Linked DNA regions of Homo sapiens: all the other regions are linked to region 2. The links come from fine-mapping of genetic effects on gene expression. A gene starts in region 2. Each other region holds a variant in brackets. All regions are shown on one strand. Distances are from middle to middle. Region 1 has its middle 61 kb from the start of VCAM1. Region 2 holds the start of DPH5 (diphthamide biosynthesis 5). Region 3 holds the start of VCAM1 (vascular cell adhesion molecule 1).

Region 1 (8,190 bases), 240 kb after region 2:
TAAATATATATCAGAATAAAGTAACATGACATCGCTGCTATCCAGCACATTTGCACAACTTTTTTTGTGATAGTCCTCATGACAATGTGTTGAGATGAGCCCTCTCATCCAATCTTGTTAGAAGTATAATTTAGTAGGACTGGTCTGAAATGTAGTTTAGCAGTATGTAACAAGATGCTTTCTTTCAGTATTTTAATTTATTAGTATCTTCTAAATAAATAATCAAAACTGTTGATAAAATCTATTCATAAAATTACTTACTTCAATATCATTTAGACTATCTAAAATTTAGAGCCAAACTGTCAAATATTAGGGGATAATGCAGTTATATTATGGCATATATATGCCATGAAGAATTATGTAGTCCTAAAAATGTTTATGGAACTTCTTATTACCAACATAGGTCAGGAAATATGATATAATGCATAATGAAAATTTAAGATATTAGCATATTTTAACAACATAAGAATGTATGGATTGATAAATAAGCAGCAACTGTGGCTAATTCTAGTTACTTGGGGGTTTTAGACTCAATACAATTTTCTCTCTTTGTTGTTTTTTCCAAATTTTTCTATAATGGCCACGTATTACTGTATTAGTCAGGGTTCTTTAGAGGGACAGAACTAATGGAATATATATATATACACACACACACATATATATATATATTCCATTAGTTATGGATATATATGTGGGAGTTTATTAAGCATTATTAAGTAAAGTATCATTAAGTATTAACTCACATGATCACAAGGTCCCACAGTAGGCCCTCTGCAGGTTGAGGATCAAGGAGAGCCAGTCCAAGTTCCAAAACCAAAGAACATGGAGTCTGATGTTCAAGGGCAGGAAGCATCCAGCATGGGAGAAAGATGTAGGCTGGGAGGCTAGGCCAGTCTCTCTTTTCACATTTTTCTGCCTGCTTATATTCTAGCCGAGCTGCCAGCTGAGTGGATTGTGCCAACCCAGATTAAGGGTGGGTCTGCCTTTCCCAGCCCCCAGACTCAAATGTTAATCTCCTTTGGCAACACCCTCACAGACACATCCAGGATCAATACTTTGTATCTTTCAATCCAATCAAGTTGACACTCAGTGCTAACCATCACAATTACTTTTATCATCAGAAAAACAAACATTTATATTTTAAAACTGTGAACAGAGTTAATATGTTAGATACAGACAATATATCAATGACACAGAGAAAAAGGTGAAATTAGAATCTCATCTAAGAGCTTTCTAACTCTAAAGCCAGTGTGTTTTCAACACATAGAAACTATGATTTGAAATATTATTCTCTCTTGGAATAAACCACATAAGGTTCACCTGTATGCCCATTGAGACATCTTGGAGTAAGGGTTTCTAAGTTCAATTACCTGCATGGAGAAAGAGTATCCATCCATATTTTGTTATCATTTACTCAGAAAAATATATTAATACCATCAAAGTTACAATGAATTAGGAACTTATATTTAGAAAAGTATCTCACTATGATACAATAGTGTGCTTGTCTTTCTAATGTTAGCTATAATCTAGTGCTTCCCTTTCTAATGTTAATTAACACTGATATGTATATTATCAAGTACATCAATAAAAAAGCAATTCACATCCTCAGATCATTTTTAAATGATAAGCTAAATCCAAACCTATGTACATGAAGTTAAATATAAGAAGGGGCCCTATAATAATTCAGATTTAGATAAGTTGATTACAGATTCTTAAGTGAAGCTTTCACATTGAGTAGACTGGATAAGTCCTATTTAATTAAACCTGAAAGTCTTGTGGCAAATCCACTGATTAGGCAGTTAACATATTAATGCTTCATGGGCAGATTGCAGAATGAATTCAGCATTTATGAAAACAAGAAGTACAATGTGAACCGAAAAAGTAGAAAATTCCCTATATCCTTTCATTTGAAGGGCAAAGAGCCAAACAAGAAGTTCATGGAAGTTGTACTTGACATTAGCGTTCCTTACAGGAAACAAAAAAAAATCATATGTTTATTTCTTAGGCTAAATAGGTTTGCTCTTCAAGATGTTTTCTAATACCGTTTAGCAGTTGAGAATATAAAACACAACAAAACTTTGCTGAATAAAATTTATAGGAGGTCATTGTTTTGGACTCAGTTCCTCCACTAGACCCCAACAGACTGAACCAAAATGCAGTCACTCAGGCTAAGTGACACATAATCAAAGTGAAGCAGGAAAATCCCTAAACTGACCAGTTTTTCCTAAAACAGGAGATTTCCAGTAGCTGGTCAAAAAGGGCCCAGTCAACCTGAGCCAGCATGGTAAGGAAGTCCCCTCTGCTTTAACCCTTATTAGGAAAGAAACCTAACTAACTCGATGTTAACCACTTCACTTTTTTTGTATTATGCTCTTTCCTTGTTCCTGTTCAAGCTACCTTATAAAAACTGATTGTTCTGTTATGCCCAGCAGAGCATCTGTCTATTTTTATAGATGGAATGCTGGCCAATTCATGAAATCACTAATAAAAGCCAATTAGATCTTTAAACTCAATTTTTTGAAATTTTGTCTTTTGACAACTCTGTTTTGCAAAAGTAGAGATATTTTCTCATTTTAGTTAATTAGTAGGTAATTAGACCAAACAATGAGAAAACTATATCTAAATATCATCTCACAATCAACAAATCTTTATTGAGCTTTTATCCTAGGGCCTGGAGATGCAGCAATAACATAAGACAGCACTCCTGTTCTCAAGGCACTGATGTTCTAGTGGGGGAGCATATAATAAGTAAATAAGAAATACATAGTGTAAATTCAGGAAGTAATATGTGCTATGAAGAAAAACAAGGCAGGATAAAGGATGAGGGTAACAATATATGGTTGTGTGAGAACCTGCTTAGGATGGAGTGCATCAGAAAGGCCTCACACAAGGAGGTTCAATTTAAGCAGAATTTAGAAGGCAGGGAAGAAACAAACCGTGATATGACCCAAAGGAAGGATGTTCCAAGGAGAGGGAAGAGTAAGTGCAAAGATCCAAGGTGGAAACAAGCTTGGCACATTTTAAACAGAGCAAGAATGGCTGAAGTAGAGTAATCAGGGAAAGAATGAAAGAGGTGGGAGAGTCAAGCGGGAGCTAGATCATTTGGGACCTTAAATGTACAATTTGGATTTTACTCAAAATGCATTGGGAAATAATTGGAAGGCTTTGAAAGGGAGAAAGATGTGATCTGACTGATATGGTTTGGCTGTATCCCAACCCAAATCTCATCTTGAATTCCCACATGTTGTGGGAGGGACTCAGTGGGAGGTAATTGAATCATGAGGGCAGGTCTTTCCTGTGCTGTTCTCGTGATAGTGAATGGGTCTCATGAGATCTGATGGTTTTAAAAATGAGAGTTTCCCCGCACAAGCTCTCTTCTCTTGCCTGCCACCATGTGAGATGTGCTTTTCACTTTCTGCCATGACTGTGAGGCCTCCCGAGCTACGTGGAACTGTAAGTCCATTAAACCTCTTTCTTTTGTAAATTTCCCAGTCTCAGGTATGTCTTTATCAGCAGCATGAAAATGGACTAATACAGTAAATTGGTACCAGGAGAGTGGAGTGCTGCTATAGATACCCAAAAATGTGGAAGTGACTGGAACTGGGAAAGAGGCAGGTGTTAGAACAGTTTGGAGGGCTCAGCAGAAGACATGAAAATGTGAAAAAGTTTGGAACTTCCTAGAGACTTGTTGAATGGCTTTGCCCAAAATTCTGATAGTGATATGGACAATAAAGTCCAGACTGAAGTGGTCTCAGATGGAGATGAGGAACTTGTTGGGAACTGGAACAAGGGTGACTCTTGTTATGTTTTAGCAAAGAGACTGGCAGCATTTTGCCCCTGCCCTAGAGATTTGTGGAACTTTGAACTTGACAGAGATGATTTAAGGTATCTCGTAGAAGAAATTTCTAAGCAGCAAAGCATTCAAGAGGTGACTTGTGTACTGTTAAAGGTATTCAGTTTTAAAAGGGAAACATCATAAAAGTTCAGAAAATTTGCAGCCTGGCAATGCAATAGAAAGGAAAATCCCATTTTCTGAGGAGAAATTCAAGCCAGCTGCAGAAATTTGCATAAGTAACCAGGAGCCTCACCATGACAATGGGGAAAATGTCTCCAGGGCATGTCACAGGACTTCATGGAAGCCCCTCCCATCACAGGCTGGGAGTCCTAGGAGGAAAATATGGTTTCATAGGCCAGGCCCAGAGTCCTCATTCTGTGTTTAGCCTAGGGACTTTGTGCTCTGCATCCCAGCCACTCCAGCCATGGCTGAAAGGAGCCAACATAGAGCTCAGGCTGTGGCTTCAAAGGGTGCCTGCCCCAAGCCTTGGCAGCTTCCGTGTGGTGTTGAGCCTGCAGGTGCACAGACATCAAAAATTTAGATTTGGGAACCTCCACCTAGATTTCACAGGATGTAGGGAAAAACCTGGATGCCCAGGCAGAAGTTTGCTGCAGGGACAGGGCCCTCATAGGAGAACTTCTGCTAGGGCAGTACAGAAGGGAAATGTAGGGTTGGAGCCCCCATACAGAGTCCCTATTGGGGCATCACTTAGTGGAGCTGTGAGAGGAGGGCCACCATCCTCCAGACCCCGGAATGGTAGATCTACCAACAGCTTACACCATGTGCCTGGAAAAGCTACAGACACTTAATGCCAGCCTCTGAAAGCAGCCAGGATGGGGGCTATACCCTGGAAAGCCAGAGGGGCAGAGCTGTCCAAGGCCATGGGAGCCCACCTCATGCATCAGCATGACCTGGACGTAAGACATGGAGTCAAAGGAGATAATTTTGGAGCTTTAAGATTTGACTGCCCCACTGGATTTCGGACTTGCATGGGGCCTGTAGCCCCATTGTTTTGGCCAATTTCTCCTATTTGGAACATC[T/G]GTATTTACCCAATGCCCGTACCTTCATTTGTATCTAGGAAGTAACTAACATGCTTTTGATTTTATGGGCTCATAGGCAGAAGGGTTTTGCCTTGTCTCAGATGAGACTTTGGAGTGTGGACTTTTGAGTTAATGCTGAAATGAGTTAAGACATTGGGGGACTGTTGGGAAGGATGATTGGTTTTGAAATGTGAGAACATGAGATTTGAGAGGGGCCAGGGATGGAATGATATGGTTTGGCTGTGTCCCAACCCAAATCTCATCTTGAATTCCCATGTGTTGTGGAAGGGACCCAGTGGGAGGTAATTGAATCATGGGGGCAGGTTTTCCCATGCTGTTCTCGTGATAGTGAATAAGTCTCACGAGATCTGATGGTTTTAAAAATGGAAGTCTCCCTACACAAGCTCTCTTCTCTTGTCTGCCACCATGTGAGACATGCCTTTCACCTTCTGCAAAGATTGTGAGGCCTCCATAGCCACATGTAATTGTAAGTCCATTAAATCTCTTTCTTTTGTAAATTTCCCAGTCTCAGGTGTGTCTTTATCAGCAGTGTGAAAATGGATGATTACACTGATTTACACTTATTTATGGGCGCTATGAAAAGTTTTTTATGGGAACAAGAATGGAAACAGAGACATTAAAGTGATTATTTCAGTTGTTCAGATGTGAAATAATGGTGGCTTGAAAAAGAGTGATAGAGATGGAGGTGGTGATGAAGACTTGGGATATAAATTGAGAATAGAGCCAACAGGATGTGCTAATGAAATGAATTTATCATATGAGATATGAAGAAAAGTCAATAATGATTTCCAGCATTCATAGTGCTATTTACCTAGATGTGGATTACTAAGAGAGGTGAGGCTTGAGGGCAAAGGAAAAGAGGTGGTCAGAAAAGTTGGGGGTCATTAGAGTATATATGGGATATAAATCCGTGGATCTAATTGAGATTGCTTAGGACGTAAGTGTATCTAGAGAAGCTGGCTGAGGACTGAGTGCTGGACCACTTCAGTAATTAGAAGTTAGATAGGTGATACAGAGCCATCAGGAGTGGGTCTCCAGTGAAGCAAGAGGAAAGCAGGTAGATAGTAGTATTTGGAAATCTAAGTGAAGAGAGTATTTCCAGGAGAAAGGGGTGGTGAATGGTCAGTAAAAGGAGAATTGACCATTGTTTTTGGCAACCTTCAGGTCACTGTTGTCCCCAAGGACAGCAGTAAGCAGAAGGTGAGGGAAAAAGCATGACTAGAGTAGGTTAAAAGATGATGGGAATTGAGGAAGTGAAGATAGCAAAAGTAGACAAAATAGACAATTCTTTCTGTGGCAGCTCACTGTGAAGGAAAGTAGAGAAATGGAGTTGTAACTGTTTGGGGAAGTGCCACTAGGGTGATTTTATACATATATACTTTAATATTGAAAGATATTAGAGCATGTGTGCATGCTGGTGGTAGGGATGATAACAATAGACAGTAAAGATTCTCCATATGTAAAAACAAGCAATACTAAAGTTAAAGTTTTTAAAAATTAAAAATCTGTAAATATATTAATATTTATTCAGAGAAAAGTTATTTGTTCCATATTTTATGGGGCAGAAATATGGAAATTTGAGAACTTGAATTCTTTTTTTATTTTATTATTATTATACTTTAAGTTCTAGGGTACATGTGCACAACGTGCAGGTTTGTTACATATGTATACATGTGCCATGTTGGTGTGCTGCACCCACTAACTCATCATTTACATTAGGTATATCTCCTAATGCTATCTGTCCCCCCTCCCCCCACCCCATGACAGGCCCCAGTGTGTCACGTTCACCTTCCTGTGTCCATGTGTTTTCATTGTTCAATTCCCACCTATGAGTGAGAACACGTGGTGTTTGGTTTTTTGTCCTTGCGGTAGTTGCTGAGAATGATAGTTTCCAGCTTCATCCATGTCTCTACAATGGACATGAACTCATCATTTTTTGTGGCTGCATAGTATTCCATGGTGTATATGTGCCACATTTTCTTAATCCAGTCTATCATTGATGGACATTTGGGTTGGTTCCAAGTCTTTGCTATTGTGAATAGTGCCGCAATAAATATACATGGAGCACTTGAATTCTTGATGAAAAGGATTGATGATACATTGGTTAAATGATTTACAAAAACGGCCTCAACTACTTCTTGAAGAAGTAATGTTATCATTTTCATTATAATAAGACAACTAAGCTGGAACATGTTAAGAAATTTGTCCTAAGTTAGTAAGAGGGAAAAAAAAAATCAAAGATTTCAATCTAGGCTTGTTTTATTCTAAAATCTCAATTTTTAACTAACAAAGGAGGTAGGTGCTTTAAAAACAAACATCTTGGTTTAATATATTCATCAGTGACCTCCACCTCTTTGAGAAGAAGGCTCTTCATTAATATCAAAAACAGTAATAAAAGCACAAACTCTTCTGATGGAGTTCTGGTTACAGTAATGTTGGAGTAGCCTGTGTAAGATCAACCCTTGTGCAGACAACACTTCTACACTCTGGACAAAATTTGAAGAAAAACAAAACTGAATGAAGATATTGCAGAGCAAGCAAAAGCAGGCAAAAGTTGATTTGACCCTTAAAAGAAGGCAACCATGCTGGGTGATACGCACATTTCTATAGCTTTCTTCTTTGGGTCATCCCCTAGGCCTTAAAATGTGGAGTAGCCAGAATGCAAGCAGAGAGCTGTAGTCTTATTAGGCTGAGGAGTCACAGCAGGAGTTTGAGACTGCCAGAAAAAATAGATTTGAGGGGAGAAGCTCCAAAGAAGGGGACTCATAGAGGGGGCAGCCTCAAAATTTGCTTATAAAATCAACTCAAGCAATTGGTTAAATTCTGACTGCACATGCATGGGCAATACTCCGATAATAGCTTGAAGGCTGAAACAGCTGAACAAAAGGTTTTAATTGTTGTCCTCCAAACAGCATTTGAAGTTTAAGTCCCACAAATTAGAAGACCTTGGTAATAATTTTGAGCTCTCAACTGAAACTCCAGAAAAACCATGCCTTAGGAATAAGACTACATGCTGGGATAAAGGAACTCACTCTAAGATCAAAGGCAAAACCAAAATAAATTTGCCCCCCAAAATCAATCTTCCATGAGTTAAGGTAATTAACTATCCACCAGAACAAAACCAAGCACCCTTCAGAGGAACATAAAAGAATTTTGGCTCTTTACATTGTATTATTCACAATGTCCAATAAATGATCAAAATAAATAGGGATACAAAAAACATCAGAAAAAAAGAAATATCAATCAATAGAAATGACCAGATGTTGGATTAGTAAAAAAGTTGTTTAAAATAAC
Region 2 (8,190 bases):
TCTAACAAAGGCAATTTCTGGGAACATGTAGGTTAAAAGGCCAGCTTCATAGTAAAATAATATTCTTCATTCACAGTAAGGTCAGATGGAGTTTAGTCAGTCACCCTGATGTCTTCTTTTCAATACACAAACTGCTTAAACAGGACAATTGAAGGATGACTTCTCTTAAATGTAAGGTAATTATAATTTGTCCGTAAGGTAATGCAGTGACTCAACTATGTTATTACTTCAGAATAAAAGTAGCATATGATGTGTCTATGACAATGAAATGGAAAAGCCATCAGTATTAATTTCTTATGACTATCTGCATCTCTCTCACATTTTATGACTACTGACTGTAGGTCTCAAATATAAGGAAGAATTTGCCAGTAAAAATGAGTTACTGGCAAAGGTTATAAAAACATCTTAAAGATCCTTCATAAAAGCATAAATGTTCACCCTCAGGGATGACTTGGCATCATCTGACCTGAAAGCAAGAATACAAAGTAGAAAACTCTTCAGGTCTAATCTATCCATGTTATTCTTGAAGCCAAAAAAGGCTAAAAATCTTTCTTTTTTTCTTTTGTCCTATAATCACCTTTCTCTTTAACCATCACTCTCTCTTCTGCTAGACATGAGACTACAAATTTGCTGACATAAAAGAATTTGTCCTCTAACTGCTTTCATTATCATTATAAAACTATAATATTTGTTAAAAACTAATTTGAAATCGTTTTACAGCAAAATTTTCAAAATCCAGCCTAAATTAGGTGAAGCAATGATATCATTTAATCAGCTATATGCCTAGGTATGTTTTGTTAATCTATTACCTAGGTGAGGAGTTTATGTTTCAAGCAAAATGTAATATGTGTATTGATGGCTGCAACTTCCCTGGAAATGCATCAACAAATAAGATGGGTTGACATCTGGGTAAAAGGATAAATAAGTGATAAAGCAAAAACAGCAAAATGTTAAAACTTTAGAACCTTGGAGGTGGCTATATGGGTGTTGACTGTGACACTGTTTCAACTTTTCTATATGTTTGAAATTTTTCACAATAAATTGTTGGGGAAAATGTAATCACATTTGAAACCTGTTTTAAATGGCAAGGGAAAAATGTCCAAATCCCACAGAATTCTGCAAAATCCAATAGGCAAGATTTTTGCAGCTTATGTTTGTTGAGCTGAGGAGGAAAAACAAAAAAGATTACCATAATCCCTTTATCTGTCTACCTCCAGAAAAGTACAAAAAATTTACACTCTTATTGAGAAATAACGGCAGGTGAAAGGTTTGTTTGTTAAGAATTCTCCGTGGTAAAACTAAGTTCCTCTGGCTACATTTTGAAGCTTAAAAACAAATTATTACTGTTATTTCAGGCAATGTTTCACTTCCTTGATTACCCAGAATAACTTTATTTTCAATATAGATATATTTCCTGAAAGGAGATAAACCACACCTTCTTCAGATTACTTAATCATCCTTTTTGGCAGTGTCCTTGCACTGTGAATCTACCTGAAATTATTATTTTTTTAAATCTGAAAACAAAAAACATAAATGATCAACACATTGGAAAATGTGTTTACCTACTCAATAGCATGCATATGAACTATATGTTTTGTGTGTTGCAAGCCTTTCAATACAAATGACCTTCTAAAGTGGCATGAGACAGGCATATTTATATTTGATATTCCATTAATGATTTTTTTGGTAGTTTTTTAAAACATACCACCCTCTGTATTAATAAAGATGGAAAAATACGTAGCTCAGCTACTAGTGGATAATAATGATTTATTCAACAAACATTTATTTAATACCTATTATGTGCAAGGGATAGTGCTAAACCTAAGATGAGCATACAAATAAGATGCAGTCCCTGAATTAACTAAATCAATAGTTTGGTAAAGAAGAAATACAAATGAACAAATATAAAATCTCATAAATTGGTTAGTAAGTATATGTAGAGTAATACTGTAATGAAGAGGAGAAACCTAAATTAGCTTAGGGGGGTGAGGGTCTCTGGGAAGGCTTCCTGAACTTGGTCTTAAAGAATGGGTATTAGTGATCTAGGCAGGAGAGAATGGGAGACAATATTCTATGATGAGGCAGCAGCGTAGAGGAACAAAGCAGCATGTTGTGGGCAGAGAACTACAAGCAATTCAGTATTGCTGGAGAGAAAGCGAGAAAGCTCATGGTATGGAGTGGAGAGAGATGATGCTAAAAAGGTAGGCAGTGGCCACACCACGAATGATCTTGTGGGGTATGTTAACAAACCTGGACTTTCTCTTGGCCTCAGAAGGATCTAGAAGGGGTGTAATATTTTCAGATTGTTAACTATAACTCTCTGACCCCCTTGAGTGAAGGAGACATTATTATCAGCTACAAGAGTGACAAAATGAGGACCTGAGAATCAAGATGGTGATAGACGGTATGGTTTCTATTGAGATATACAGGCAGACATGACAGACGATGTGGGGGTGACTCCCAAGTGTCTGGCTGGGGTTAATCTGTTGATGACAATACTCTCCTCACCCACCCCCACCCCCGACCCATCCAAGTAGATAATATGGAAAGAAAAGCAAAATGGAAAGGGAAGGTGATGGATTCAACCTTGGATGTGTTGAATATGCTTCCGGGTTATCTAGGTGAAGATTTCCAGCAGAACGTTAACATGAAGCCAAGAGGGAGGAAGTCTGGATAGGAGGCTGAAATTTGAATCTACAAAATATTAGCGATACTAGGAATTCTGAGTGAACAGCCAGTTTTTGTGAGGTTTTGTTTGTTTTACTTAAGCCATTCTAATAGGTGGGTTGTGGTAGCTCATTGTGATTTAAATGTTTATTTTCCTAATGTCTAATGATGTTTAGGATCTTTTTTTGTTTGTTTAAGATCTTTTAAAATAATTATTTGCTATTTGTGTATCTTCTTTGGTGTCTATTCAAATCTTTTGCCCATTTTTAAACAACGAACTGTTTTATTATTGCTTTCTGAGTGCTCCTTATATATTCTCCATACAAGTCCTTCATCAGATACATGCTTTGTAAATATTTTCAGTATGTGGCTTCAAGTCTTTTGAAGAGCATAAATTTTTACTTTGTTGAAGTCCAATTTATCAATTTTTTTCATCACGCTTTTGGTTTAAGAAATATTTGCCTAAATAAGGTCACGAATATTTCCTCCTATGTTTTCTTCTGGTATAGGTTTAGGTTTTCCATTTACATCTACGATCCATTTTGAGTTTTTTGGGGTGTGTATGTGGTGTGAGGAATAGATCAACGTAATGAGAGGGGATAAAACACAGCCACGAAGAGTTTATAGATAGGAAGTGCAAAAAGGTGGATGGAACCTGGGAATGAAAAAAAGCCAAGGTTCAAGGAAGCGGAGTTGGGCATTGTCGGGGAGGCAACAGGAAAATTCTGAGTAACCAACACTGCCTGCTAAGAAAAGCAATGACAGCTGTCTTTTTTAACTTGGATGAGGTCACCTTGGGAAGAGCATTTTCAGTCAAAACAAATCTTCCCTATTTCTAATTACATGTAACCAACAGCTTTATAAGAATTCCCCCGGCAGAAACACTTGAGAGGTCTGAAATCCCTGAGCACTATTAAAGGTCACTTCTTTAGGTACAGGAAGGTCTGGGATTCCTGACACTGAGGGTGACTGAAACATCCTTGGGGCACTCCAGGCATAAGGTCTTGGGGACAAACCCAAGGAGTCATTGCCTTGTTGGGAAATCAGAAGCACACTCACTGCTGGGTTTGCCAATCTCACGCTTCACCAGGAAGACACCTAGTTGAACTACAGGAGGATGAGAAGACTGGAATTAAAATCTGTGCACTCGGCCAAATCCGGGGACAAATCAGGAAAATCCTTCCCAGCCCTCCCTGTTTCTGGAGAGGAGGAGTAGGGCGCAGGGCCCCTCCCGACTCTCTTCCACGTGGCTCCTCTCGAGCGAAGAGCTACTGCACTTACCCAGGCTTAGGAAGCGGGTGTTTAAGCCATGGGTTAGAGGGCTCGTGAGCACGCCCGATCCTTTCCCTGAGGCTATGAAACGGTGGCTCCACGGACTCCTCTCGGCCGACTGACCTTTCGCCGCCCTGCCCCAGCAGCCGGCGGGTTTCTTCAGTGGAGCCGGGCTCTGGTCTCCGCAGCCCAGTAGCCCGCTAGCCCGGCCCCCTCCCGCTAGTCGTAAAGTGCAGTAAAGGCACCAGCATTTTGCGGCACCGTAGGTGAGGCCGGCGGCGTGGGCCTTTTCTCTGCACGGAGCCGGCGCTTTTGCAGTTGCTTCTGCGGAAAGGTGGTAGTTAAGAATTTGTAAAGGCCAGAGAACTACCTACGATTCTCTCAGCGGGTAATTGGCTGCTCCTAGGTTTGTGTAACAAGAGGCAAAACTGGTAGGGTTGTTTAAAACCTCTTATCCCAGTTCTTAAGCGTGACATAAGGTTCCCAAACCCCTCCTTGTGACTTGCCTCTTCTCTTGTGCTACTTTGGTTGTCATCGTGTTCATCACTAGATTTTAGATGTCCTCGGTGTTACTGACGGTTTTTCTGTCCACTTCGTCTTGCAGTCTCTCTTCTCCTCAAGTTTGAAATGCTTTATCTCATCGGGTTGGGCCTGGGAGATGCCAAGGACATCACAGTCAAGGGCCTGGAAGTTGTTAGACGCTGCAGTCGAGTGTATCTGGAAGCCTACACCTCAGTCCTAACTGTAGGGAAGGAAGCCTTGGTAGGTGCTGAGCGTTCCCCAGCCTCCTGGGAAGAAAGCTATCTAACATCTGATTTTCATACACTAAGCTGAACAGAATTTTCAGGTCTGCTTGTTTAAACCCTTTGAAACGCATCCCTTGTTCATTAATGATCTGAGGAGCAGAAGAATGGAAATTTTACACCAACCAAGTGACTTGGAAAATGAAAGGGTGCTTTGTCCTATTTTACAAGTCTAATTTTGTGGCTTTCTCCAGTAAATAGGAAAGCTATTTTATACTCCTGGGGGATAGTTATCAAAACCCCTTATTTCATGAGGTAGTCAAGAAACCCTTTCTGAGTTGAGTGCTAATGAGGAGCTGACACAGCCTTAATGAGTTGGTTATATATATTCAAAAACCAAGCTGAAAGCTTCCCCCTTTGAAGTGTGTCCATAGGGAATGGCGATTGCCTTTTTGTATCCTATCCAGAGAGATCTTATCTTAAATAGACTATCTCCCAATAAGGCTTATACTGATACACTTGTATATATTGAGTGAGCCTGGACTTAATATATAAAAATGTATGAGTATACACTTACATGAGTATACACTAAGTAACCAAAGTATTTGTTAGTATATTATACATTTATAGTTGGCCCTCATAAGGGCCCAGTAAATTTGGGGGAAGGGTCAACTTCAGGTTCATTGTCAAACTCTAAGTAGAATGTAAATCAAAGGATTAATACATATGTTATGGGAGGAGGGAGCAGATTTATTGTCATGTCTTCCAAACAAAAAATAGACTTAAAATTTTTAGGCCTCAGATTACTTTAAAATCTTATAGAAGGAATTAAGAACTGCTACTTGAATTGGCCATGCATTTAAATAAAAGTTGTGTGTAAAGACCAACTTTGATATATACATATATGTGGAGAGAGAGAGAAAATAAGTCTTGCTCTGTTGCCCAGGCTGGGGTGCAATGGTATGATCATGGCTCACTGCAGCCTCAGCCTCCTGGGCTCAAGTATCCTCCCACCTCAACCTCTCGAGTAGCTGAGACTACAGGTGGGTGCCATCATGCCCAGCTAATTTTTTGTATTTTTTGTAGAGACAGGGTTTTGCCACATTGCCCAGGCTGGTCACAAGTTCCTGGACTCTAGTGATCTGCCCACCTCGGCCTCCTAAAGTGCTGGGATTGTATAGGCACAAGCAACCACACCCAGCCTAAGGCCAGCTTTGATTTAAAAAACATTTTTTTTTCTCATTTTTTCACTCTTAGGATAGAACCAAAATATCTAAGCTCGAAATGATGGAAATGTGCGTCTCTAATCAGTGATTAAGGAAAAGTAAAAGGAACTTAACACCTTCAAGAAAAGACAGACAAATAACAAAACAGCAGTTTGATAGAATGAGATATCAGGGGATGGCATAGAGGAAAGTTTGGTTATAGTTTTATCTTTGTTACATGTTAATGTGACCTTGGACAAGTCCTTTAACTTTAGTGTCTTTTTTAAATGGGGTAAAAAACATCTACTTTAGGTGTTCAGCATAATTCTTAGCATAGGTTCTTAACTATGGTATATGGCACAAAACTGTTCAGAAATAGAAATTGTCAATGTTCACATTTCCAAACTTCTCTGAACCTCAGTTTCTTCATTTGTCAAGTGGCAATTACCAGTTGGAGGGTTATGTAGTGTTTTATTGAGATGATGTATATGAAAGTGCTTTGTAAATTTTCAGTGCTAGCTAAATGTTAATTTTGGCTGCTGTTATTTTGTAAAGTATTTTTTTCCAAAGACAAAACTTCTGGAGTTACTACTTACAGAGTCAAGACCTGAAGCTGGACCCAGCCTTACCTACAGTAAATTATGTGTACTTTGTTAAGGTGCTGGAATATCTGTTTCTTCACAGTAATAAGTACTGACATTTATAGAACAGTTACAGAACAGTTACTGTGCACTGTTTTAAATGCTTTACATGTAGATTAGGATTATTATTCTAATTACTGTTCATTTTGCAGGGATAGAGAAGTTAACAAACTTGCCTAAGTTCATGCAGATAGTGAATGATAGAGCCAGGAGATGAACCAAAGCAGTCCTGAGTTGAAGTCTGCCACTCTTTTTATTATTATTATTATTTATTATGTTTTTTTATTTTGAGACGGAGTCTTGCTATGTTGCCTAGGCTGGAATGCAGTGGTGCGATCTCGGCCCCCTGCAACCTCTGCCTCTCGGGTTCAAGCAATTCTTCTGTCACAGCCTTCTGAGTAGCTGGGATTACAGGCGTGTGCCATTGCGCCCGGCTAATTTTTGTATTTTTAGTAGGATGAGATTTCACCATGTTGGCCAGGCTGGTCTCGAACTCCTGACCTCAGGTGATCCACCTGCCTCGGCCTCCAAAGTGCTGTGATTACAGGTGAGAGCCACTGCGCCCGGCCGAGGTCTACCACTCTTGACCTCTACACTGTACTGTGTCTCTGTATTCTTAAGGATAGATAATAGCTACACAAAGTTTAACTTCACAGAACACCTACAGAGAAGGTAGGATTCAAGCAAAATGGTCAATGCTGGATCCTGCCCTGCTTAATAATTTGTTCATGTACTCATTTGTTTGACAGATATTATTGAGTACCAGATACCGTTGCACTACAGCAATCCTTATAAATTTTAATAACTCACTCAAAGTTCTCAGTATGTAAGAAACCGTATTATTTATCTATGCATCCAGTTTTACTCCATTTGAATTACTTATTACTTCTCAGGAAATCAGTTTTAAGATTCATGATCCTTCATTCTGTACTGGCTGACGAGATGAAAAAAAAGAAAAGGATTCATGATCTTGCATAATAGCCCGTAACCACTATCAGATGACTACTAGCTTACTAGCTCACTCTCTACTGGATTTGTTCTCTAGAGTTGAGCTGCAGGGAATTAAATCACAAAGCAGTTTGTTTGCAAACTTCCTACATATTTAGAATTCAGTTACTGCTCCTGCAACTCTGCCTTTTTAGCAGAAACTAAGGAATATAGTTTTAAATTAGTATCTTCTGCATTTATGTAGGAATGTTCACTGGTTCTGTAAACAGCTAATTTTCTATTGTTTCTCATTGGTGCTGCCTTTTTTTTCTAGCTGAGTTGCCATATGTTTAACCATTGAAAATTTAATAAAAGCTAAACCACCATGTTTGTTTAAACTTATTGTTTAATATATTTATTCTGTATTACATCATGTTTCTGAAGTAGGGCTCATGTGTACATATTCCGCATTCATCCTACAGTGTTCTATTTGGCCTTTAGAACCAAATTTAGAAATAAATTTAAAATGCAAAAAGCCTCAGATGTTAAGAGTTCCGCCTCCTTTGGGATATTAAGACAGCCCCAAATACAGAGTTTAATTGCAACATGACATAAAGTACTGGCTTACTGATGAGTTGTATTGAATGATCTGCATTTGGGTGGTTGCCAACATATGCACCAGTCCCAAACAAAGAGTGTGTGTGTGTGTGTGTGTGTGTGTGTGTGTGTGTGTGT
Region 3 (8,190 bases), 300 kb after region 2:
ATTTTAATCATCCAAGTTTAAATACCATGTTTTCACATTTTAAAAATTTGTGTTGAGCTGGGTGTAGTGGCACGTGCCTATAATCCCAGCTACTCAGGCAGCTAGGGTGGGAGGATCACTTGAGCCTAGGAGTTTGACTTCAGTGTGGGCAACATAGCAAGATCTCATTTCCTAAAACAAACAAAAGACTATGCTGCCCATGTTTATAATCTATTCATTAATTCAGCAAATATTTACTGAACATTTATTATGTGTTAGGTACTGTGCTAAGAATCCAAACATTCACACACACACACACACACACACACACACACACACAGAATTCCTGATTTTAAGGAGTTTACAGATTTTTTAAAAATTAAATAGAAACAGGAGGTCTCACTATATTGCCGAGGCTGGTCTTGTACTCCTGGCCTCAAGCAATCCTTCCACCTAAGCCTCCCAAAGTGCTGGGATTATAGGCTTGAGCCATTGTGCCCGGAGCAGGAATTTACAGTTTAGTGGAAAGACACATTTAAAAAGATATATTATTTTGGCTCTTACTAAGGAATATTTGCGTTACCTATTTATATGCCTGTCCTTCCTTCCTAGTTTGTATGCTCCCCTAGGGCAGTTGTCATATCTTTTTCATATCTGTACCCCCAGTACCAAGTACAATTCTTGGATTCTTGGACAAGGGCTCTTAATATTTGTTGAACTGAACAGAATAGCATACATGACTATAAGGAGTGTTGAGTGTACACGAAAGAAAGAATATGTAGTTTGGTCTGACACAGTCTGGAACTGGGAGGCTGACATGAGCTTCATATTGGAGAATGGCTAAGATTTTGCCAGATGAAGGAAGGAGAAAGGCCATTTCAGGCAGAAGGAACAGCGTAAGCAGAGGCACTGAGTCATCAACAGATCTGCAAAGGTAGTTTCTGACCAGATCATAAAGAGTTCTGTGTGACAGTTTTAAGAAATGTGATGGAAGTTATAGAAAATGAGCACCTTTTTGTTTAAGGTAATAAACCCTGGGAGCAGTGCATAAGATTGATTATATTAGGGACAGAATCTTAGCAGGGAGACTATTTAAAGATAATTAGCCATAAAATATGTGAAATATTATTCAGCCTTAAAAAACAAAAGAGGAAATTCTGTCATTTGCAACAAAAGGGATGAACCCAGAGGACACTATGCTAAGTGAAACAAGCCAGGCACAGAGAAGCCAGTACCTCCTGATCTCACTTATATGTGGGATCTACTTCTAAAGTCATAGAAGTAGAGAGTAGAATGGTGGTTACCAGAGGCTGGGGCGAGGAGTGGAAGGGAACAAGGAGATGTTGGTCAATGGATACAAAGGTTCAGTTAGACAGGAGAGTAAGTTGTTTAGATCTATTGTACATCATGATGACTATAGTTAATGATAATATATTGTATATTTAAAAATAGCTAAGAAAGTGAATTTCAAATGTATCACCACAAAAGAGCAAGTGAGGCAATGGATTTGTTGACTTGACTTAATCATTCTACATTGTATACCTATACCAAACATCACATTGTAATCTATAAATGTATACAATCATGATTTATCAATTAAAAATATTTTAAAAAAGAAATAATAAAGACAATTAGCTATAAAATTAAAAAGGCAAAGGGGTTTTCATTAAAATGAACCTGCATCAAAATCATAGTAAATGCAACTAAAGAGCTATTTAGCCCCAGGAAAAGTATGAACTATGCTGAGCCTGGGTTTTTAATAGTGTTGTGGTAAAGATTAATGAGATAAAATATATAAAGCAGAATACAGAATTCCTGGGAAATATTAGGTGTACAATCAATAGGTGGTGTCATTATTAATCTCTGGGAGATTCCACTCTCTCATCTGTAAAATGAATACAAAATACTTACTTTTTAGTTATTTCTTGAGGATGGCATATGGAAAGTGCCAGAAACCTATCTGGTGTTTAGCGAATGCTGTTATGTAAGAATATCTTGCAGGAGCCCAAGTGAGAGATGATAAACTAAGGCAATGGCAAGTGGGGTGAAGAAGAGGTCATATTCCAGGGAGCATTTTGAGGTAGAACTGACAGGATTTAACAGCATGGAATTGGAACATGAATTTGGGAGTAATCAACATATTGTAGTCCAATTCCTGGGAATCTAGTGTGAGAACAGAAGAGGACCCAGGGGTGTAAACTTGAAAATACCAATATCCAAGGGGAAGGAGGAAGAGAGAAAGTGAGGGAATGAAGCAGAGAAAAAGTGATATGAGATGAAAAAGAATCAGAAAAGCAGAGCCATGGAAACTCTGGGAGGGAAGACTTCCACAGAGTACTAGTAAGATAAACATATATTTGTGCTAAAGGATATGGCAATCAGATAGGTCATCAGTGAAACTAAGGGAAGCAATTTCAGCATTGAAGCTGTGTTGACTATTGCTCAAATCCCACTGACAGCACCTTTATCATTCCTTTTTCACATTCTACTCACCTTGAACAATTAATTCCACCTCTTTTCTGTTTTTCCCAATCAAATTAACTCCTTCACACACATAAATTCCAGAATCTTCCATCCTCATAGCAATTAAGGTGAGAGTTGCATTTCCAGAAAGGTGCTGTAGATTCCCATTATCTAATTTCTTACTCCAGAAAATCTCTGGAGCTGGTAGACCCTCGCTGGAACAGGTCATGGTCACAGAGCCACCTTCTTGCAGCTTTGTGGATGGATTCACAGAAATAACTGTATTCTTGGGTGATACTGAAAGGGCAAAAAATAATATTAGCAATTGCTAAGCATCATCCCAGTGCAACAGAGGTAATGTATTTCTCTTAGTATTTATGTGCTTCCACCAATTTGATGAAATTACTCTGCCAAATTAGTATAAAGAACTGCTGAATCATTCAAAATAGTCTATCCAGTTTCTGACTAAACTGATCAAGTTTAGTTGATGTTTCATATTTTTCAGATGGTTGTAGATACTCAGAAATTAAGAAAAACCATGTGGCTTAACCTCCCACTTAAGGGTAAGAGTCCCATTTAAGCATTCTTGCCAAGTGCCCATTCAAGTCAGCTTCAACATTTACTGAGAGAATCAACCCACTGCTTTCCAAAAGAGTCAATTTGATTTTTGGACAGCTCTACATATTAGCACATTTCTCCCTATTGAGCTGAAATCTTCTCTCTATACTATTTTAAACATATTGGCCATAATTCAGCCCTGTGCTGTTACAGAATAAGGTAAATCACTCTTTCATATAACTGTCTTTCAAATGCTTAATTAGATGTCTTTTCCAGCCAGGTTTTGTTTTCTCTTCAGAAAAATATCCTCTATCTTGACTATTCTTCTCAAAATATTGTTAAAAGCCTTCCCAGCTCATTCTCTTTCAGCTAAACATGCCGTAGTTGGCAATACTCCCTTTAAATGTGGTACCCAGTGCAGAACATAGCATTTTAGTCCAGAACAGAGCACAGTGAGGCCACTCCTACACAACGCTGGGACTACAAGACTCCCACAAATCCCCTGGCAGTATCAGGGAGATTGGAGGCAATCAAACCCCGTCATTTTTCCCCTGTCCAGTGCACCTATGTATGTATGTGCATATGCATACACACACACACATACACACACAGAATAAGTGATCACCTTGTCAAGTTTCTGTACCTGTGCAACTAATAGTTCAAGGCATACTATAAGAGTTTACAAAACAATATTAAAATGTTTTATCATTTGAGCCTATTTCCCACTACCCAATCAGGTGGTATTACTATTCCCCTTTTATACACTGGGAAATAGAGAAATTAAGTAACCCAAACTCACACAGTTAATAGAGCCAGAAATTAAGCTCAAGCCTTCTCAGTCCAAATCCAGTGTTCTTTTCACTGAATTATACTATTGACAAACATTATGTTGTGAATGAATACAAATGGAATACAAACTATATACAAGTTTTTTTTTTTTTT[A/TA]CTTTTCTGCTAAGTTTATTGCTATACACAACCAAGGTGGGATTCCCACAAAGACTGGAACACATCGCACAAGTACTTACTGTAGACTTGCAATTCTTTTACAGCCTGCCTTACTGTGGGCACAGAATCCATTTCATCAATGTGTAATTTAGCTCGGCAAACAAGAACTTTTCCAATATCCTCAATGACAGGAGTAAAGGTTACTTCCAAACTCTTGGTTTCCAGGGACTTCCTGTCTGCATCCTCCAGAAATTCCTGACTCTTCATGAGATGATCTCCTTTCAGTAAGTCTATCTCCAGCCTGTCAAATGGGTATACATCAGCAACTGAACACTTGACTGTGATCGGCTTCCCAGCCTCCAGAGGGCCACTCAAATGAATCTCTGGATCCTTAGGAAAAGCTGAAAAGGCCAAACAAATACATGGATGGGCTTTTTGCTAATGTGATATAAGGTCTCTTACCACTTTAACACAATACAAATCAAGTCTAGCGTTTTTGTTAATACAGTCTTAATACGACAGAACTGTTTGAATAGCCTTTCATGATTTGGGGTGAGTTCAAGGCACAAGAATTGGAAGCAAACATTTTTTACAACATTATTCAATTCTGATCCTGTATATATTAAGAGTTGCATGTTATTACAGTAAAAGAAAGAAGAAAAAATAATGTTTATATTGAACCTTACATGTGGCTGTCACTGTGCTATAGATTTAACATGAATGATTTCATTTTATCCTCACAATAACTCTAGGAGATAGAGATCACATTTCACAGAAAAGAAGACCTGGACTTAGTACATTTACATAACTTGTCTAAGGTCACACACCTAGTAAATGGTAAAGCTGGGATTTAAACTCAGGATTTCCATTATTGTGTTTTGCTACTACAGATTTACATTATGTTACATCACATTTTCTTATTATAGTCAGGGCAGATATATTTCCATTTTACAGATAATGACTGTAAGCCTTGGAATGTCATTGCAAAGAATAGTTATTGTCAAGATATTCTAAGAAATGAGAAGACCAACTTTAAGTAATTAGCTTCTGAAAATGGTGCCTCTGACAGGAATTCATCCACCAGAAAGATACATTTGTGCAATCTTTATGTTCTGGAACACATATTTGCCTCCTGAAATGCCTAACTCACTATCCCAACAAGTGTTCCATTGAAGCTTCTAGTACAAGGAAATACACTACTTCACGTGGCCATTGCCTCCTTTGCAAGAGTTACCTTTTTCATTATGCATTATGATGAAGTAACATATTGGTGGATTCAAAACTGTGTAGCAAAAAGAATACAAAGGTCTCAACTCTAACCACTATTACAATCAAATGCGGAAAGGAGACAGAACTGTTATACATAATGAGAAACAGACACTCTTGGAGAAAAACCTCAGGCAAGATAATTAAAACCAGAAGCGTCTTCATTTCTCTTTCTTAAATCTTCAACTATTTGGTACTAGTGGGCAAAAGACAAAGGAGCTGGAAATTCTTTCCTATGTGAAGAAACATGGTATTTTTCATTTTTCCAGCAATAATTTCTGTCCCTCATATTCTGTAAGAAATGTTCCTCTAATCCACACAGTTCGATGTCAGGTAACATAAGAACTTGCTACTTTTCCCTGTATTTACATAAGGGAAGCTTTCAAGGAGCTCGGGAGGCTGCACAGACATAAACTATGCACATACAACCAGCATAATTGAAAGCAGCCGGCCAAGCACAGTTTCTTGGGAAGCTTGAGCAACACATGCGGTTTGTTGCAGAATCAATTAAGGTTACTGGGAAAAGTTGAGCTCCGGTACAATAAAACGAAACCAAAGTAATTATAATCAAATGAGGTCTTCATGAAGACATGACCGTAAATGGGTTCAGTTTTTTAGAAAGAGAGGCCATCAGTAACAAAAGGCAAATGATTTATGTCTGGTTAGTTTTTTACTCCTCTTGCTAACTTTGTTTGCTGAATGGAGAATGGAGTGGGATGCATTTTGTCAGGCTGGTAAACTAGGGACATCCACTCACTTTCATGAGGCAAATCTAGTTCATTATATAAATATCTTTGAAGTTGAGCGGTTGAGCACCAAGGCTTCATGGCACCAAAAAAACCAAAAAAAAATCCTAAATGTGTCAACACCAAAGTCAAATGATTGAAATGTTTCCAGATATTAACAATTATGTCTAAGAAGAACACTTTTATACTAATACATATTACTAATTATAGATCTACTTAATGTTTAAACTAATTTTAAGCATCAAATTGCATAAGAATAAATGAATAGAAAATCCCTGAAGGATGGAATTCATAAATCAATCAGACACATAAGCAAGTAAACATGTAAGGATGTAATCAAATGGAAATATTTTTTAATAAAACAAAAAGAAACTTAGAAATGATCATTTTACAGCTAAGGAAACCAGAGCCCAGAGAGGTTGAGTCTTATACATGGTCACTGTGTTTGTGGCAGAGGTAGAAATAGAAGCCAAGATTTGGATTCCTGCTCTCTCTCATGTTGGCCTTAGCTGTCCCTAGCTTTCCTGATGTTGTATGTTCTTTAGCCAAGAATCTGTACATGAATATCCATTTTAAAACTTTTTTTAAAATATCATTTTTAAAAAGTGATTTTAAAGTAAAATTGAGAGAAAAACAAAGATTTTCTAAAGCACTCACAGTAGATCTCCACCTGGATTCCTTTTTCCAATTTCCTAGATTCACAAGTTGCTGTGCACAGGTAAGAGTGTTCGTTCCCAAAACTAACAGGATTCATTGTCAGCGTAGATGTGGTCCCCTCATTCGTCACCTTCCCATTCAGTGGACTATCTATCTGGGTTCTCCAAGAGAAAAATGGGGACTCACAGCCTGTGGTGCTGCAAGTCAATGAGACGGAGTCACCAATCTGAGCAAGATATCTAGATTCTGGGGTGGTCTCGATTTTAAAAGCTTGAGCTGCAAAAGCAAAAAAAGACAGAAGCAAATTTACCACTAGTTTGTCTAGTATTCTCCTCCTTCTTCTCTGTATAATGTCTAAAATATGATCAGACTGATCTCTTTCCTAAGCTGCTTCAAACTAACTGCAAGGTAGCCAAAAAGCACCGAAGTCACTGCCAAAAAAGTTTATGGAATCATCTTCAGTAGAGAGAATTCTCAGTTCCAACCTTGATGCCCATTTATCAAAGCTGTTTTGTTATTTGCTAAGTTTGACCTCATTGTCAAGTATAGGAAACTAAAGAGACAGACCGACTAGAGACAGAATCCAAATTACTCAATTGCCTTTGGAAAAAAAGATACCAAAAACATCAATTTTCAGCTCTAACTATGACAGTACAATGGTATATAGCAAAACTCAATTGCATATTAAAAGTTAGACTAAATTAACTTTTCCTACTGTTTAAAATCCTAGTGTCTTTACTTCACTACTATCGCAAAACTGACTGAAGCCAAAACCAGGGCTAAAATTGAATGCTAACATTTGAAACAGATGAAGGGAAATAACTTACAAGCTGCAAACATTATCCAAAGTATATTTGAGGCTCCAAGGATCACGACCATCTTCCCAGGCATTTTAAGTTGCTGTCGTGATGAGAAAATAGTGGTTCCAAAACCCTTATTTGTGTCCCACCTGTGTGTGCCTGGGAGGGTATTCAGCTCCTGAAGCCAGTGAGGCCCGATGCAGATACCGCGGAGTGAAATAGAAAGTCTGTGCTTTATAAAGGGTCTTGTTGCAGAGGCGGAGGGAAATCCCTTCAAGGGGAAACCCAGGGCAGAGCCAGGGAAAAAAGTTTAACAGACACCCAGCCAAGTTCCACTATTAACCCCTTCAGTTGCTCTCACTGCTGAAGCTCCTCTCTCTGTCCTGGCAAAAGAAGACACTTCCAAGACTATAAAATACAGGCTTTTCCTCATCTTCGACTCCAAAAGGCTATCTTTACTGGAAAGATAAAGGACAATGCTGATTGCAGAATGAAGCTTTCTGAATCCAATGTGGGTTAAGGGGGTGGGGAGAGAAAAAATGGAGACAGAGTAGTAAATTCTACTCTGGTTTTTGAACTGGATAAATAACGACTATGCCATGTGAATTGATTTTCTCCATCAAGGAAATATGTTTGCAATTCTAAAAGAGATTAATTTTTTTCTCTTACAAGAGAAAGGAAAAAGTTATTTCTTTTGATGAGTCATTTTTTAAAAAAGGGACACCATAACTTCTTAGTTTTATATTTATTCATAAAAATAGTTCTTTTAGCAACAAACA

Evidence for each region. PIP is the estimated chance that this variant, and not a neighbour inherited with it, causes the effect.
Region 1: its variant is fine-mapped to the expression of DPH5 in whole blood (INTERVAL, PIP above 0.99).
Region 3: its variant is fine-mapped to the expression of DPH5 in whole blood (INTERVAL, PIP above 0.99).

The regions. Positions count from the first base shown.
Region 1 is chr1:100,776,938-100,785,127 of GRCh38, reverse strand. No RefSeq gene overlaps it. Among named protein-coding and RNA genes, the nearest start is that of VCAM1, 61 kb to the right of the region's middle. The variant T/G (reference allele first, on the strand shown) is at 4,876.
Region 2 is chr1:101,021,820-101,030,009 of GRCh38, reverse strand. It overlaps DPH5 (diphthamide biosynthesis 5), which reads left to right and starts at 4,226. Exons shown (of 8, transcript NM_015958.3): 1 at 4,226-4,327; 2 at 4,544-4,701. The coding sequence starts at 4,567. It overlaps DPH5-DT (DPH5 divergent transcript), which reads right to left and starts at 4,164. Exons shown (of 5, transcript NR_109849.1): 1 at 3,949-4,164. RefSeq lists a silencer at 2,444-2,503 and enhancers at 4,295-4,404, 3,497-4,696.
Region 3 is chr1:100,719,173-100,727,362 of GRCh38, reverse strand. It overlaps VCAM1 (vascular cell adhesion molecule 1), which reads right to left and starts at 7,621. Exons shown (of 9, transcript NM_001078.4): 1 at 7,439-7,621; 2 at 6,612-6,887; 3 at 4,023-4,343; 4 at 2,473-2,739. The coding sequence starts at 7,502. The variant A/TA (reference allele first, on the strand shown) is at 3,943.